Homo sapiens: one gene and its partner. The gene in region 1 interacts genetically with each later gene. Each region holds a gene or a part of one and is shown in the gene's direction. Other genes may lie near its edges.

Region 1 (5,190 bases):
AATCCAGCCAGTACATTTAATTGGGCTTAGAGTGAAACCATTTGGGTGGTATGGAGGTATACAGAATGAAAAATCGGGGTGGAGGGCATGGGAATATATACTTATAATAATGTTTCATGGTATTTAGTAATTATAATTGCTTAGGAATTAATATGAGTTATTAGGGAAAGAAAGAAAAAAACACTCCCCAAGAAAATAAAATTGCATTTTCTTTTGGAAAGAACCACTTTATTTTGCACCTTTCTTTTTCTTTTTTCCTTGCCTATTTTTCTTTCTTTTTTTTTTTCTTTTTGTTTTAAAGATATTTGGGCTATAGGGTGTATATTTGCAGAACTACTAACGTCAGAACCAATATTTCACTGTCGACAAGAGGACATCAAAACTAGTAATCCTTATCACCATGACCAGCTGGACAGAATATTCAATGTAATGGGATTTCCTGCAGGTACACATTATTCGTTTTTGTTTTTGTTTTTAAATCACTGTTGTTTGAACTTAGATGTCTTCGTTGGAGAGGTATATATTTTTAGCTGATGGAAGCTACTTTTACTTGAGTCTTTGTTTTTTGACTTGCATTTATCAAAGATCCGTAGAAACAGCAAAATTTGTAGAGTTTACATATTGGCATGGAAATATTTATGGGTTTCCTGAATTTCAGGACTGTATTTTTGTTTCATCTTGTTTTACTTTTTTGTTTTGTTATTTGGTATTTGAAATGATAAAATATGTTCAATATCTGTATTAAAAAGGTACCTTTAGCTCTTACCAGTAGAAACTATAAATGAATTCAGTAGTAGGAATTTTTTTCTGGCAGCACATATAATACTGCCACTATTTGGCATTCAAATATAAATTTTGAACCTTATTTCTATTTAGGGCACTATACAGAATCACATTATATTGAATAATAGCATTTAAGTCTTCTCTTAGAACAGTCACAATGTGGGTGAGAGTCATAGTACCCTATGGTGAGTTAGCCTGCTGTTTTGCAACAGAGAGATGGTTTACATGTATCCTATCCCTGGTATTAGATCTCTCCAACTGTATCTCAATCCCTAGTTATATTACAGAACGGTAATCACCAAAAACTGCTCAGAGGTCCAGAATAATGAGAATTTGTTTAAAACACCTAAATTTTGGCTAGTCAAGTACTTAGTAGAAAGTGTTTCTTATTAGGAATATTTCTCAGGTCACTATAAACTCAAGACTAATAGAGATAATACCTGGGACTTTTAATTCTACATTCCCTTGTAAGGGTGTTAATTATCAGTAAATGCAGAATAACTACACAGATACTGCCTTTCTCCAAAATTGGTCACCAGTGTGGAGAAGACTTCTGTTGTGATGGGAATTTTATTTATTCAGTAAATATTTATTGAGTACCTGCCATGTGCCAGGCACTGTCTTAAGTAAAAAGTTATTGATGATGTAACAGACATGATTTTTGCCCCCTTGGAGTTTGCATTGTACTGCTATATGTAGAATGTTTAAAAAGTAGGTATGGTTTTGAGTAGAGACAGAAGAATTCTGTTTTCTTCCTGCTTCTGAATGTGTCCACCATTTCTGAGCCCACGGGAAAGGCATAGCTTCTGTGAGGGAGTAGATGTGGTGAAGATGTCTATCAGTGACTCTTAATATGTGGTTCAGAGGTTAGGGTGGTTTATAAGGAAGCTTGGAAAGCAGGCAGCAGAGGTTAGATTTGATAGCTAAAGAATGAGAATCCATCAGTTCTTGAGTACTAGAGACATGCTTTATGTTGCATTTTAGAAAGATTTAGTAAGATGGTGGTAGGTAAAAATCTGTTAAAAAGAGCTAACTGAAATCAGAAACCAGCTGTAGCAGTGCTGCAGACAGAAAGTAGAGTGAAGATAAGGATGGAGAAAAAAGGGCAGATGGAAATGTTTTATAGGAAGTGTATAAGCAAGGGAAAACTAAAGATTATCTTAAAATTTCTAGCATGAGAAATTGATAAAACACAGAAATTGGAGCAAGGAAAATAGTTAAGGAGAAAATTCCATTTAGGAGTGTAGTGTATGTTTAGTTTACAATATGTGATGTCTTTGGAGGATAGTTACCAAATATTTTTACAAGTAAGTTCAAAGAAAAGCAAGCCTCTAAAGGCCATTTAAAAGCTAAAGGTTTTGCGAGGCCGCGGTGGGCGGATCACCTGAGGTTGGGAGTTTGAGACCAGCCTGAACAACATGGAGAAACCCCGTCTCTACCAAAAATACAAAATTAGCTGGGCATGGTGGCTACATGCCTGTAATGTATTACAGGCATGGGATTACATGCCTGTAATCCCAGCTACTCTGGAGGCTGAGGCAGGGGAATCACTTGAACCTGGGAGGCAGAGGTTGGGGTGAGCCGAGATCGCACCATTGCACTCCGGCCTGGGCTGTTAACAAGAGCGAAACTCCGTCTCAAAAAAAAAAAAAAAAGAGCTAAAGGTGCTGTTAAGCTGCCTGTGACAGTCCTTTGCACCTAGTAGACTCTCAGGAAAACCCATTGGCAGATATTGGAGAGAACACATTATGTAGCATGTATTGTTTGAGCAACTTGGATGCCAGCAAAAGTAGCTGAAACGTTTTGTACTTAACGTATTTAGGAGCTGGGGTTGTTTTGGGTAATGTTAACCAGACTAGCCAAGGTACCAGCCCACTTATTAATATACTAATTATATCCTACCCTATTGTGCAAATAGTTATTACCCCTTCTTCCATTGATTGCTTATGTAAAGAAATATATTTAACAAGGTGAAAGGAGGGCTGTATCATAAAAAGAAGTATAGTTTAAAGCCACTGAGGGGAAGATCTTAGATTTCTCATTGAAGAAATTGATTGCTGACTTAACCAAGAAATTTGGTAGAAAAGGGGAAATAAGCAGTTTTACTAATAGAAAGAGGACATTTAATAAGATAAATAGAAATATGTATAACTTATTCTTCTCTAGTGACAGAAATTGAGGCAGCTTATAGTAAAACATACAGAAAGTTTGCAGTTTAAAATTTAAAATATAAACAGATATATAAAGTTATATAAGGGATAAGGAATTATGTTTACACTTCAAGATATTTACTGTTGCTGAACATTTATTTGAAGACAGCTTTTTTGTGTGGAGGTTGAACGGATAGGAAATGTAATGAACGTGGTAATAACCTTTTTAAAAATTCTCAAGAATAGGAACTTAGGCAACATAAAAATTTATCAATGTATTTCACAGATAAAGATTGGGAAGATATAAAAAAGATGCCTGAACATTCAACATTAATGAAAGATTTCAGAAGAAATACGTAAGTTGGAAAAAAAGAGACTCCTTGTTGATTTTTGCTTTACCAGAATACTCAGTGTAAGACTGAATATTCAACATAATAAAATACTCAATATAAGATTACTCTAATAAATAATTTTACTTATTTACTCTAATAAATATTTTTCATGATGACAGTCTTTATTTCTTAAGATGCTTAAATGATTATATACAAAAGTGACTAATATTAGCAGCTGATTTGGATATAAAACAAATTCATGTCTTTCCATATTGACTACTTTTTGGAAGCTAGACATTAGTGAGAAGTATCACAGCTGAATAAATAAGAATCTAAATAAATAAACTTTGGTAATAGCCACTTGCTCACCAATCTAGGTTACAGTAATTTTAAGCAGGTTTTAACAGAGAAGAATGGATATTTCACCTGTTTACAATGCAAAGCCAGGGATTGGGAGAGTTTAGTTTGTATACCTATGACAAAAGTATTTTACACTTATTGGTAAGGCTGAATTAAACTTTTGACCCAGATGTTATTTAAAATAATTGTTAAAATATAATTCATGTGAAAAAAAAAGCTGTTTAGTGTCTGTTATTCATGAAATTGTCTTACATTTAATCATCGGTATCCTTTCAAAAGTGACCATTGTGGATATTGAATGAAATAGAAAACTGATTTAATTCTACTCATTTTATGCTCATAGTGTTTTCAATATATATTTTATATCGGTTATGATCAAAATAATTCTCATCAGAAGGACTTTAGCCAATGTACAATTAACCTCAAGTCTAATATAGCTATTTCATAGTATTTCTCTTTCAGGTATACCAACTGCAGCCTTATCAAGTATATGGAAAAACATAAAGTTAAACCAGATAGTAAAGCATTCCACTTGGTAAGCATTGGTTAACAGTATTAATGAAATGCATTTTTTCCTTAATTGACTAGCCCAACTGAGGCTTTTTTGGATCAATTTATGTGGTTACTTAGCTAGCACTCAGAGTGCTTTCATGGTAAATGCAGAGATCTTGTTAGTGCATACCAATAAAGACAATAAACTATTTGCTCTTCCAGACTCATATCATGGTTTGACAGACTAATGTTTGGTCACATTAGATTTTCTAAAGATAGCGATGGTAACAAATCTGTCAAAACATTTATAAAATTACATGTATTGTTTTTCGTCTGTTTAAGATTTTAAAAGTTCCAGAGAAGTATCAAGAAGAAAGTACTTCTCACCATTGATAAATAGATTGTTTTGTATTTCAGCTCTTTGAAAGACTGTTTACAAAGTTCTTAATTTCCAAAATACCTCTTATAACCTTAAATGTTAACAGTCATTCAGCGATTATATGTGCTATTTGATTTTTCTGGAAGAATGTGATAGATGCCATATTTATCAGTGTGTAATGGAAAAATGATTTAACCTAGAATCTAATTGAATCCGTGCACTAACAAGGTAATTTGTGATGAAATTATATACAGCCATTACCAACTTTGTTTACAATAAAATTTCCATTGTTACAGCGTAATAATTAATAATGTTTTTTGTTTTAGAAAAAGGTTTATAACACATAGAAGGGGAGTTTGGGGAAGCAGGTTGTATTTTGCTTGGCTTGAAATTCTTTTAATCCTTATTCCTAAGTTCTTAAATGAGAATTCTTTCACCTTGAAGAGGTTAACCTTTCCTTTATTGCAACCAGGCCATTTGGCAAACATTTCTTCTGTTCTTCCTTTGTTTCTCCTTTTTCTTCGCTTTCTACTGCTTCTCCTTCTGTATTTTCTACTTACTATTATATCAGTTCACATTTTATATCATGTATTTCATATCTTAACAGCAATTTAAAAAGTCATTCTTAACCTGTCATATTACCACACAATATATTATCCAGATAATGGTTTATTATAATGTACTTACAGTAGGA
Region 2 (5,190 bases), on another chromosome or scaffold:
GTCTATCGTTCACTCTCAAGTCCAGAGTGTTAGTCTATCATAAACATTAGATTCCTTCCTCTTGCAAGGGTTTTATCCTTTTGCCCATCTCCACCCTGCCCGGGGTCCAGCCTGGAGTAGGCCCCACAAAAGGCAACCACCCTCCCAAGGTGCTGTACCCACCACTGCTGTCTCTATGTGTGCTGGACAGATCCCCGGCACCACCTCAGCACTGGTGCGGAACTGGAAGCGCCCCTCAGACCAGCTGGGGGACCTGGAGCAGGGCCTGAGTGGAGAGCCCCAGCCCCGGGCCCGCGCCTTCCTGGCTGAAGTGAAGCAGATGCGTGCACGGAGGAAGACAGCCAAGATGCTGATGGTGGTGCTGCTGGTCTTCGCCCTCTGCTACCTGCCCATCAGCGTCCTCAATGTCCTTAAGAGGTGAGAGCACGGGGTATGGTTGGGGTGGGGAGAAGTTTGAGGTTGGGGAAGGAGCTCTCCTTGCTTGGGAGAAAGACCTGGCTCCACCCCTTCTCCACTATGTGATCTTGGGCAGGCCATTTCTCTTCTCTGAGCCTCCATCTCCTAGGGCTATCGTGAAAATTCACGCATTCATTCACTTAATCATCACATTTTAGGGGGCTGGAAATACAATGAACAAGTGCATAAGACAGACAAAGTCCCTGCCTTCATGGAGGCTGCATTCTAGCAGGAGAGAAGGGAAGTAAATAGAAGAATCAATGTATATTATAATGTCAGGCAGTGATAACTGCTGGGAAGAAAAATAAAATAGGACAGAGAGTGACAATGATAAGGGTTGGTGGGTTTTTGCTTTTGCTTTAGATACAATGGTTTAAAAAAAGCAGGGGGCCGGGTGCAGTGGCTCACATCTGTAATCCCAACACGTTGGGAGGCCAAGGAGGGAGGATCGCTTGAGGCCAGGAGTTCAAGATCAGCCCGGGCAACATAATGAGACTTCGTCTCTACTAAAATTCAAAAAATTAGCCAGCCATGGTGGCATGTGCCTGTAGTTCTAGCTACACAGACTGAGGTGGAAGAATAGCTTGAGCCCAGGAGGTTGAGGCTGCAGCGAACCATGATTGCACCACTGCACTCCAGCCTGGGTGACACAGCTGTCTCAAAAAAAAAAAAAAAAAAAAAAAGCCTTTCCAAGGAAATGACATTTGAGCAGAGACTTGAAGGAAGTGAGAGAGCTAACCATGCACGTGTCTGTAGGGACAGCCAAAGAGGGTCGCAGGGCGCTGGGGAGAGAATGCAGGCTATTGGACAGAAGACAGTTTCACTTTGAGATTGTGCTTGGCCACTTCCTGGTTGTGTGATCTTCGGCATGTCACTTTACTTCTCTGAGCCTCAGTTTCCTTAATGGAAAAATGGATGATGTCTATGATTCATCATGTTGCTGTGAGGATGGATGAGAAAGTGGATGGGAAGCCCCAGGGGATCCGATGGCCAGGAGGCTAGAGATGCCCATCACGGTGCTTGATACCCTCCATGCTTGAGAACCCCAAACCCTGGCCAAGACCTCAGGTACAGAAGGCCAGGAAACGTGGACAGAAGTGGGCAGTAGGAACTCTTGCACTTTACAGCTCAGGTTCTGTGAGCAGCACTCCCCCAGTACATGCATACGCAGCTACCCCATTTCTGACGCTCCTCCACCCTGGGCCTAGGGTGTTCGGGATGTTCCGCCAAGCCAGTGACCGCGAAGCTGTCTACGCCTGCTTCACCTTCTCCCACTGGCTGGTGTACGCCAACAGCGCTGCCAACCCCATCATCTACAACTTCCTCAGTGGTGAGCAGGCTGGGGATGCAAAATGACTGAGGGTGGCCAACAGTCCACATGACAAGTCTCCCCATCCCCAAGCCAGGGCCCAAATAAAGGATGGTGGGTGAGGATGTACCTGCTGTGGGCACAGTGATCCTGCTCTGGGAGGACCCACCCCAAGCGGCCCTGGCCTGAGTGGGAGACGGGCCACACTCCCTACAGTGGCTGGCACCCAGGATCCAGTTTTGCAGATTCTGCAGACCAGTGAGTGAGTGGAAGGGCAGGGGCTAGGCCAGCTCACCCCCAACTCCCACCCTGGGTGCAGGCACAGCAAGACCTCCAATCAGCTCAGGCAGAGGAGTCCATCCTCCCCGGAGGGAGTCAGACCTGTGGGAGGAGGGCCCTGGAGCCCCTGCCCGAGGAAGGATTGCACAGTCCAGGTGTCAGGGCTAAAGTAGGGTCACTCTGAGAGACAAGCCAGGCCCAGGGAAGGGCTTCGCCGGCTCAGCTAGACACACTGGCAGAGTGACCGGAATCTCAGGGGTTGTCCCCTCTGGAAGTCTTCCTCCCCTGCCACCCCCACTCCCACTCCAGGCCTCTCCTCTCTGCTGTCCCACAGTGCCCACCCCCTCCCTCTACCTCCCAGTCTCAGGGTGGTAATGGCTCTGAGGCTGAGCTCAGCAGAAGTCTGACTCACCAGCCCTCTGACTTTGGGAATAGACTTCTAAAGAACAGGTCCAGATGACTGTTGAAGCCTGGACAGAAATAATCTTTGAGGAACTATTAAAAGGTTAAAGAAAGGATCAGGAGTCAATAGTATAACCCTCATTGAGACTCAAGAATTACTCAACAAGGCTGGCTGCGGGTTTCCAGGTCAGAAAAGAGAATAGATGATGAGCTGTGTGGGGAGGGGAGGGCAGACAGACTTACTGACACATATGCCTTTGTTTGGCCTATGTTTACTGAGCACCTACTATGTGCTTGACCCTGTGCTGGGCACCAGAGAGGCTGGCAGCCTAATGACACATGATCAAAGGGGCTTCAGCCTGACAAAATCTGTTTCCCTGGTATACTTGGGCTGAATAATGTGGTGTGGTGGTCCCTCCTTCCCTCCTCCCCCTTGAGAAGGGCTTTGGAATTAGAATTGGGTTCAGCTTCTGGCTGGGTGGACTTGGGCAAGCCACTGTACCTCTGTGCATCTCATCTGTGAAGTGAGGATAAAGGACTCCAGCCTTTCAGGGTGCTGGGATGCTCTGGCGGACAGAGGCTGAGGCGCCCAGCACAGCGTGACTGCCAAATGCAAAAGGGCTGCTGCTGCCGTCATTTTCATCATCAAAGGGCAGAGAGGACACAAGCCTCGCAACAGATAGTGACCCCCACGTACACACCAAGGAGAGCAGAGGTGACCTGAGGCCCCCGAGCCAGACACCACGTTTTGAGTCAGCCTCCGAGCCAGAGCACAGTCAAGGAATCAGATGGCAATTGCGTCTCTCCTTGGGAACCCGCTCCAGGGCTTCTGTCCTCTCTCTCTGGCGGTGCCGAGGTTGCCTCAGGGCTCTCCCTCCCAGCTCTATCCCTCCCTCCCTCCCCGCCCCCTCATAGGCAGCTTGGCTGGAGCTGCGTGGGTGTCCCTGGGCTCAAGGCCCCTTCCTGCTGCATCTGTCTCCTTATGGCTGTGTCTTTTGTCTCCCAACCAAGGCAAATTCCGGGAGCAGTTTAAGGCTGCCTTCTCCTGCTGCCTGCCTGGCCTGGGTCCCTGCGGCTCTCTGAAGGCCCCTAGTCCCCGCTCCTCTGCCAGCCACAAGTCCTTGTCCTTGCAGAGCCGATGCTCCATCTCCAAAATCTCTGAGCATGTGGTGCTCACCAGCGTCACCACAGTGCTGCCCTGAGCGAGGGCTGCCCTGGAGGCTCCGGCTCGGGGGATCTGCCCCTACCCCTCATGGAAAGACAGCTGGATGTGGTGAAAGGCTGTGGCTTCAGTCCTGGGTTTCTGCCTGTGTGACTCTGGATAAGTCACTTCCTCTGTCTGAGCTTGTGTCCCCTAAGCAGGGTTGATGTGAGGATTAAGCATGCTGAAGCAAGTGGAAAGCTCCTTGTAAACTGTGAAGTGTTGTGGACATGATTATTGTTGTACTTCTCTCATTTGGCCATACCCCACAGTATAATCTGTCCCCATCCTCCTTCCAGAGCTTGGTCATCCTCCTAAAGACCCCTTTCCTACCCAATTACAGGCCTTCCCTGGAGTCTGCTCTAAAGGTCCCAACAGGCATTTCCATCTTGTTCCATGGCTCCCTGAAGCCCAGGGCTGCACTTGGCCAGCTGTTCTGATGCCTGTGTGAACTAATCTGGGCCCAGCCTTTCTCCAGCGGGCCACGAGCACAGCCCCACCCTAACCAGGTGCCAAGGGCACACACCACAGACCCGACCTTGTTGGCTTTGTGGTGTGATAAAACACTCTCCATGGCCACTTGGCAGAGAGGCCAGCAGCCCGAAGCAACTGTAATTAAAAGCCTGGCACTGAATGTTCCCTTTCCTTGTCATTGCACAAAATCTGTGCTGCTTAGGTTAGGAGCAGAAGAAGGTGGGGAAGCTGGGGGGAGGGAAGACAAGAAGGCACTAGAATGCTCTTATCTGCTGACCTCCCACCCCCACCACACGGGATCCCAGATGGACTCAGCCAGGCCTCGGCACACGTGGTGCTGCCTCCTCATGCGGTGCCAATCCTGTGACGCCGGGACCTCACCCCTCGACACAACTGTCTGCTCACAGGCCCAGTGGCCTGGGGAAGGTAAGGGGGGCCGGGTGGGCAGATAGCGGGTTAACAGGCTGATTTACTGTTATCTTCATCTTCTTGGAAACCAAGGCTTGCGCCTATTTTCTATGAACTCACAGGATAAAAAGAGAAAGCCACAGACTTGGCCAGACATGCTCCGTCTGCCACCGAGATTTTAAGGCTGCCAAAGGCCCTGAGCCTTGTTGCCAGAGAAGGACGTGGAGTGCAGCCTGAAGTGCTACTCTGCTGAGAGGAACAGGGACATCTGGCAGGGGCCAGCTCTGCTATGCATACCACCAGGTCTGCTTAACTTGATTAATAGAGCTGTGGGCTCCCTCTGACCTCAACCGTCAAGAACGTGGGCAGAGCCCTGGTGCTGCCAGGGGCCCAGCCCAGGAGTGTTGAAGCACTGCTCCTCCTAAGCACCCCGCTTTACCCAGAGCAGGTGGAATGTGTGGTCTAAGTATGCCACCTGCTCTCCACACGACTTACCAGCCCAGCTCTCTGTGGACGGGGCAGAGCTCTAGCTGCTGCCAGGAGGATGGGCTCTCCTGCCCATTCCACACTCCCACTGGCCTTAGGATCCAAAGCGGTTGGCACAGTGCATAGGTAGGCTTGGAGGTGAGTGTGCAGAATGAGGTATGAGGGCTGGCCCCCA

Evidence for each region.
Region 2: changes in CDK8 (region 1) and HCRTR1 together harm fitness less than expected from each alone (positive genetic interaction), as found in Homo sapiens cells (one large-scale study listed by BioGRID).

Annotation. Positions count from the first base shown.
Region 1 is NC_000013.11:26,393,066-26,398,255, forward strand, and holds part of CDK8 (cyclin-dependent kinase 8), read left to right. Parts: intron 1-301; coding exon 302-445; intron 446-3,219; coding exon 3,220-3,289; intron 3,290-4,087; coding exon 4,088-4,160; intron 4,161-5,190.
Region 2 is NC_000001.11:31,623,333-31,628,522, forward strand, and holds the end of HCRTR1 (orexin/Hypocretin receptor type 1), read left to right. Parts: intron 1-190; coding exon 191-417; intron 418-1,664; coding exon 1,665-1,786; intron 1,787-3,457; coding exon 3,458-3,648; 3' UTR 3,649-4,281; downstream 4,282-5,190. UniProt on the Homo sapiens protein: Moderately selective excitatory receptor for orexin-A and, with a lower affinity, for orexin-B neuropeptide. Triggers an increase in cytoplasmic Ca(2+) levels in response to orexin-A binding.